Regions from separate parts of the Homo sapiens genome. Here region 2 is linked to region 1. The links come from fine-mapping of genetic effects on gene expression. A gene starts in region 1. The other region holds a variant in brackets. All regions are shown on one strand. Distances are from middle to middle.

Evidence for each region. PIP is the estimated chance that this variant, and not a neighbour inherited with it, causes the effect.
Region 2: its variant is the best candidate, but not a certain one, in a credible set for the expression of NCMAP in pancreas (GTEx, PIP 0.53).

What each region holds. Positions count from the first base shown.
Region 1 is chr1:24,554,961-24,557,866 of GRCh38, reverse strand. NCMAP (non-compact myelin associated protein) reads right to left here and starts at 1,780. Exons shown (of 4, transcript NM_001010980.5): 1 at 1,698-1,780. NCMAP-DT (NCMAP divergent transcript) reads left to right here and starts at 1,843. Exons shown (of 3, transcript NR_109781.1): 1 at 1,843-2,051.
Region 2 is chr1:24,582,820-24,585,725 of GRCh38, reverse strand. The region is part of intron 1 of NCMAP (non-compact myelin associated protein); the gene reads right to left. Among named protein-coding and RNA genes, the nearest start is that of NCMAP, 28 kb to the right of the region's middle. The variant C/T (reference allele first, on the strand shown) is at 1,124.

The DNA of each region.
Region 1 (2,906 bases):
CCCAGCTCACTATATGCCCAGCTCACCGCACGCGCCGCGGCTGGCTGGCTTGGCACCATGCTGCCTCCCCACAGCTCATCTCGGCCCCAGCCAGCACAGAGCCCAGCAGGGACAAGGTGAAGAAAGCCACAGGCCATGAAGGGGTCATGGGAACCCCCTTCCCATTTCCTCCTCCCCTCCCACCAGGCATTCATGGTCCTTTGGTGTCTCTTGGCTGCCCTTCTGTCCCCTCTCCCCACTTAGAGGACATGAGTAAAGGTATTGGCCTACCTAGAGTTCCTGCCCCATCATCCACTCCCACGGGCTGATGGGACTCAGGATTCCAGGGTATTATGTGCCCTCTTCTATCCCGGTGCTCTGGCTGTGCCTGTCACTTTCTACTACCACCACCAACACACACACGCACACACACGCACACACGTGCACACACCCACATGCACACACATGCACACAAGCGCACACACACACACATGCACACATACACACATGCACCATAAGAGGGGGTGCCTATAATCTGTTGCTCTTGGCTTCTGCTTATAACTGTTCCATCCACCTAGACCACTGTCTCTAGTATCCATACCCACCTCTTAGAACCAGCCATCTGTAAATTCACTATTTGTGCCAAGCATTGTACTTCATATGCATTCATTCATTCATTGGACAAATATGTATTGAGACCTACTGCATGCTGGGCACCGTGCTGGTGCTGGGGATACAAGGGTGAACCAAATAGGCATCATCCCTGCCCCCAAGCAGCTGCTAGCAGACATTAATAGCTCATGTTCATTGAGTGCCTACTATATACCCACCCTGTATTAAACACTTTATGAGTTATCTGATTTAATCTGTCAGAGAAATTGTTTCATTTAAGGAGCACATCAAACTGAAACATAGAGAAAAGTGTGGACTTGCCCGAGACTGTTGGACGGCCTTGGCTGAGGGGTAAAGCAGGGACTCCAAAGCGCTGCCCTAACCACCACCTTTCCTTTCCCTGCCCCACTCAGATGCCACCTCCTCCAAGGGGCCTTCCAGAATCTTCTCCCAGACTCAAGGGCTGCCTTGGTCTCTCTAATCCAGCCTTCATATTTGACACAGCCATCTCCTCCCACAAGGATACCCAGAGGACTGGAGCCGTCTCTGCATCCTTCCTCAGGAGCGCTGCTGGATGAGCGACCCCCGAGCCCCTCCAAACGTGCTGTGGATGGAAACTACGGCCCTGGGCTCCTTCTCTGCCGTGGGTTTTCATCTCGCTGAATCGCAGATCTTCCGGAGGGGCCTCTGCATAGGGCAGACCCATCAAGGCGCCCATTTAACAGATGGGGCGGATAAGGCCCCAAGTGGGTAAAAGTTCCTTTATCTCCAGGCCGGGTCAAGGTCGACTCCCTTTTCTTCCAGCGAGCCTCGGCCCCTCCGCCAGATGCTTGGGTGGGGAGGGGACAAGGAAACGACCTCGTCTCCAAGACCCACTGGAGATGATCAGCCTCCCTCCCACCACCCCGGACCAACGCCCTCCCGCGCAGACCCCAGGCACTTCCTCCAACAGATGTGGGGGTGAGACTGGGGACCCCTCGTCCCCACCCCCGGGCCCTCCTTCGCCCAGCGCGGCCGGCAGGTGGACAGGAAGCCACCGCACCTGGGCCGGACCGCTCCTCGCTCCCCGCAGCCCCGGGCAACCCCGGCGACCAGGCGCCTCCTACCTGCTCTGTCGAGCCCCGCTCGGCCTCCCGCCGGCACCGCCGCGCTCCCAGCCAGGGTCCCCGCCGCCGCCCGGCGCTGCCACCCTGGGATCCCGCCCCCGCCCGGGGCGTCCCGCCCCCGGCCCCGCCCCGTGCAGGTGATCCTGGGGAGGCCGGAGAACGCGCCGGGGGTGCCAGGGTCCCGCACACTGGAGTGGCGGCGCCTCCCCGTGGTGTCCCCGCTCCTGGGTCCTTTTTGGGACTGGCTCTGGCACTCCCGGGCACTCAGTCCAGTAGAGAAGTCCAGCAGGAGGCTTCCAGGTCGGACTCCTCCGCGGGGTAAAGAGAGGGAAAGGGCCTCACAAACACACCCAGGTGAGCTCCAGGCACTTTGAGTAGGGTCTTTAAAGGAGCACGGCGCTAATCTGATTGAAGGTTTTGAGGGGCAGCTGGAGATTCAGACAACCACAGAACGTTAGACCGGGAGGAAACAGGCTTGGCAGCCGGCAAGTGTCAAGAACTCTTGCCGCTGTAGGATCAAAGGCTCCTTCCTCCCCAGGCTGTCGAGATTCCAGCTGTATCCCAGGAGCCCAGGGCGATATCCCTGGCAGGCAGCGGGTACTCAATCAATATTTATAGAAAGCGGGAAGAGATCTCGGAGAGGGGATCTCTTCTCTCAGAAACAGGGAAGCTGAGGCCCAGGAAGCAAAGGTGAGCACAAAGTCTTATAGCAGGTTAGTAACAGTATCAGGAGTGGAGGCTGGTTTCCCGGTTCTATTTTCAATTGATTTCCAGAAAGTGATTGCATCTGGGCCGACTGCCTTGCCGCTCAGTGCCTGTGAGATGCTTTCAAACTCTCCTCAGCTAAGAACTAAGATTTTTATAGGAAGAAAACACGTATTTTTATAGGAAACTCCAAGGTAGTATTTATTTATTTATTTATCTTTGAGACAGGATCTCACTCTGCAGCCCAGGCTGGAGTGTGGTGGCACAATCTCGGCTTACTGCAACCTCTGCCTCCTGGTTCAAGCGATTCTCTTGGCTTAGCCTCCCGAGTAGCTGGGATTACAGGCACATGCCACCACACCCGGCTAATTTTTTTGTGTGTGTATGTATATATATATTTTGGTAGGGACAGGGTTTCACCATGTTGGCCAGGATGGTCTTCAACTCTTGACCTCAAGTGATCCACCAGCCTTGGCCTCTCAAAGTGCTGGATGAGCCACTGCT
Region 2 (2,906 bases), 28 kb before region 1:
TGTGGCTGGGCAGGGGAAGAGCAAGCTGTGGATTCATAACCTGAGACTCGGAAGACCAGGATTTCCCTTGTCACTCATTTGCTACCTGATCCTGGAAAGTCCTCTCCCTTCCCTGGACCTTGGTTTTCCTGCCTGTAAAATAGCCCAGTTTGGAGATCATCTCTAAGGGCTTTTCCAACCAGTGATTCTGTTACATGGAACTGTTCATAGCTTCACAAGAACCAGTGTCTTCCAAAAGCTTATTCTTCTTTGTAGATATGGACTCAGGGGATGTGAGGAGAGGGAAGTCAGCGTGAGCACATCACTCTGGAAAGCAGCGATCCTTCCTAGAAGGCACTAGAGACTGGAACAAACCGAGGCAGATTCCATGAAGGGGCTTTGATTTGGCAACAGCAGTGCACAAGAAAGGAAACCCGGGAATGAACTTCCAAGCACTCTGTAGGGTACATAGTCACCCGAGCCGCCTGAATCCTTCATGGCCATTTCCTTCACCCTCTATTCCTCTTGGATCCCTTATCATAAGCTCCCCACCCCGTCTGCCCTGTCTGTTCATGGCTCTGTGTATCACAGCTCCCAAAGTTGGGGTAGGAATTCTGCCGTGTGCTCCCCTGAACTGGAGGCCATACACAATTACATACTGAACATGTGTTCCTTGTAGTTGGTTCCCAGAAATAAGGGAGCACATTTTCTGCTCCATTTACCCATCTATTCTTTCATCCTGCTATCCACTCATGCCCCCACCCACCCACCCGCCCACCCACTCACTGGGCACACAGTCCTTCCACCCGTTCTTCTGTCCATCTGTCCTCCCATCCATTCAATCAATGCCCACCCTGTGCATAGGACTGAGAAGACGCAAAGAGGGCCGTGGGTCTGTTTTAAACCAAAGAACAATACATAAATAAATAAAATAAAAACCAAAAAACCAGAGGGGCCAAGGGGATTATGTCCTGAGGAACTCAGACCGAAAGAATGAGAAAAGGAATTGTTTCCTTTCAGAATCTTTTCTTCAATCACATGTACTGGGCATCAACCCCACCCCACCGCCCACCCCATGCCTAGCCCAGCACTGACCACAGAAAGGTGCCTGATCAATATCATACTGCAGTCCTATGGCAAAAGC[C/T]GCAGCCTGTGGCTCCAGAAGTCTGGGTTTCAGGCCCACCACACACAGACTTCAGGGGAAGTCTTACTTCCCCACCCTGTCAAACGGTGGCTCAGATGTCCTTTGCTCTGATTTTTGTGACCCACATTGTAAGAAAAGGGGACTCCAGGAGCTTCTAACCCAAGACCTGCAGATATGATAAGCTGAGTGTGCTAAGAGTTATAAATAGAAACCCCAGCTGAAAGTGGTCACAAGGCTTACTTTGCTGGTGCCAAAAGGGTGGCACACACAGTGCCAGAAGTCGGTGGGAGGAAGAGACCCGTGGACATTGTGGTGGAGATTGACTGAGAGCTAGAATGTGACCTGTGGCTTCCGTCTACCTCTCAGTCTCTGGGCTCAAGCCAAGGACCCAACTCTTGAGAGTCCTCGACCTCCATAGGAGCTCCCATGTAAATCTCCAGGTGTCCCGCTGTCCCTGTGGGGCGGGGGGAGGGCACAGGGTTAATGGGTTTATGCCCCTCAGTGAATATGTCAGAGGATAATAATGCCACCTCGATATTCTAGGCCAGGAGGGAAGGAAGCCCACACTCAAGCAGACCCTATGCAAGTGCCAGGCACTGTGCTTTCACATGCTTCCCCATTCAATCCACACAGCGAGGCAGGTCTTTTCATCTCCACTGTGCTGATAGGAAACGGAGGCTCAGAGAGGTTAAGGGACTTGCCCAAAATCTAACAGCAGGTCAGTGGAGGAGCTGAGTCTCAAACTCAGATCTCCTACTCCAAACCGTCCTCGGCAATCCTGGTCCCCGGGAGGTAAGCAGTATTCCTGGGGACACTCTGATGGTCAGTGACCCTGCTAGGGAAGGATTCTGCTCACCTGCTCACTTTTTTTTTTTTTTTTTTTTTCTGAGACGGAGTCTTGCTCTGTCACCCAGTCTGGAGTCCAGTGGCGTGATCTCAGCTCACTGCAACCTCCACCTCCCGGGTTCAAGCAATTCTCCTGCCTCAGCCTCCTGAGTAGCTAGGATTACAGATGTGCGCCACCACACCTAGCTAATTTTTTGTATTTTTAGTAGAGATGGGGTTTCACCCATGTTGGCCAGGCTGGTCTCGAACTCCTGACCTCAGGTGATCCGCCCGCCTTGGTCTCCCAAAGTGCTGGGATTACAGGCATGAGCCACCGTGCCTGGCAACTCTCTGCTCACTTTTCTTTCTACCTGTTGATATTTTGAGCCCAAGAGGTACAGCCAGGCCTCAGAGTATGGCAGAGTTTCTCATCCTTGGTACTACTGACATTCAGGCCAGGTAATTCTTTGGTGTGAGGGGCTGTCCTGTGCATTATAGGATATTCAGCACCATCGCAGCATCCTTGGCCTCTCTGCTCACTAGATGCCAGTAGCATCCCACCAGTTAGAACAACCAAAAATGTTACAGGACATTTCCAAATGTCCTTGGGAGACAAAATTTTCTCTGCTTGAGAATCACTGGAGTAGAGCTATTTGGCCTGCCTCTTAACAGTTTCCTATTCTCCCTATCCAAGAAGAACTAGATAAGAAGGAAAATGTCCAGTCTGTTTTCATACCTGTGGATAAACAACCAATAACCATGATGATGACGACGATGGCGATGACCAAAAGCACAATTACTGCCATTGATCAAGTGTCTTTTACGTGCCAGTTACCATGCCAAGTACTTTGTATATGTTTTCTCCATATATTATTCCTATTTTACAGACATAGGAGCTGAGGCTCAGAGAAGTTAGGAAACTTGCCTGAGGCATCTGTGCTGATACATGGCAAAGCTA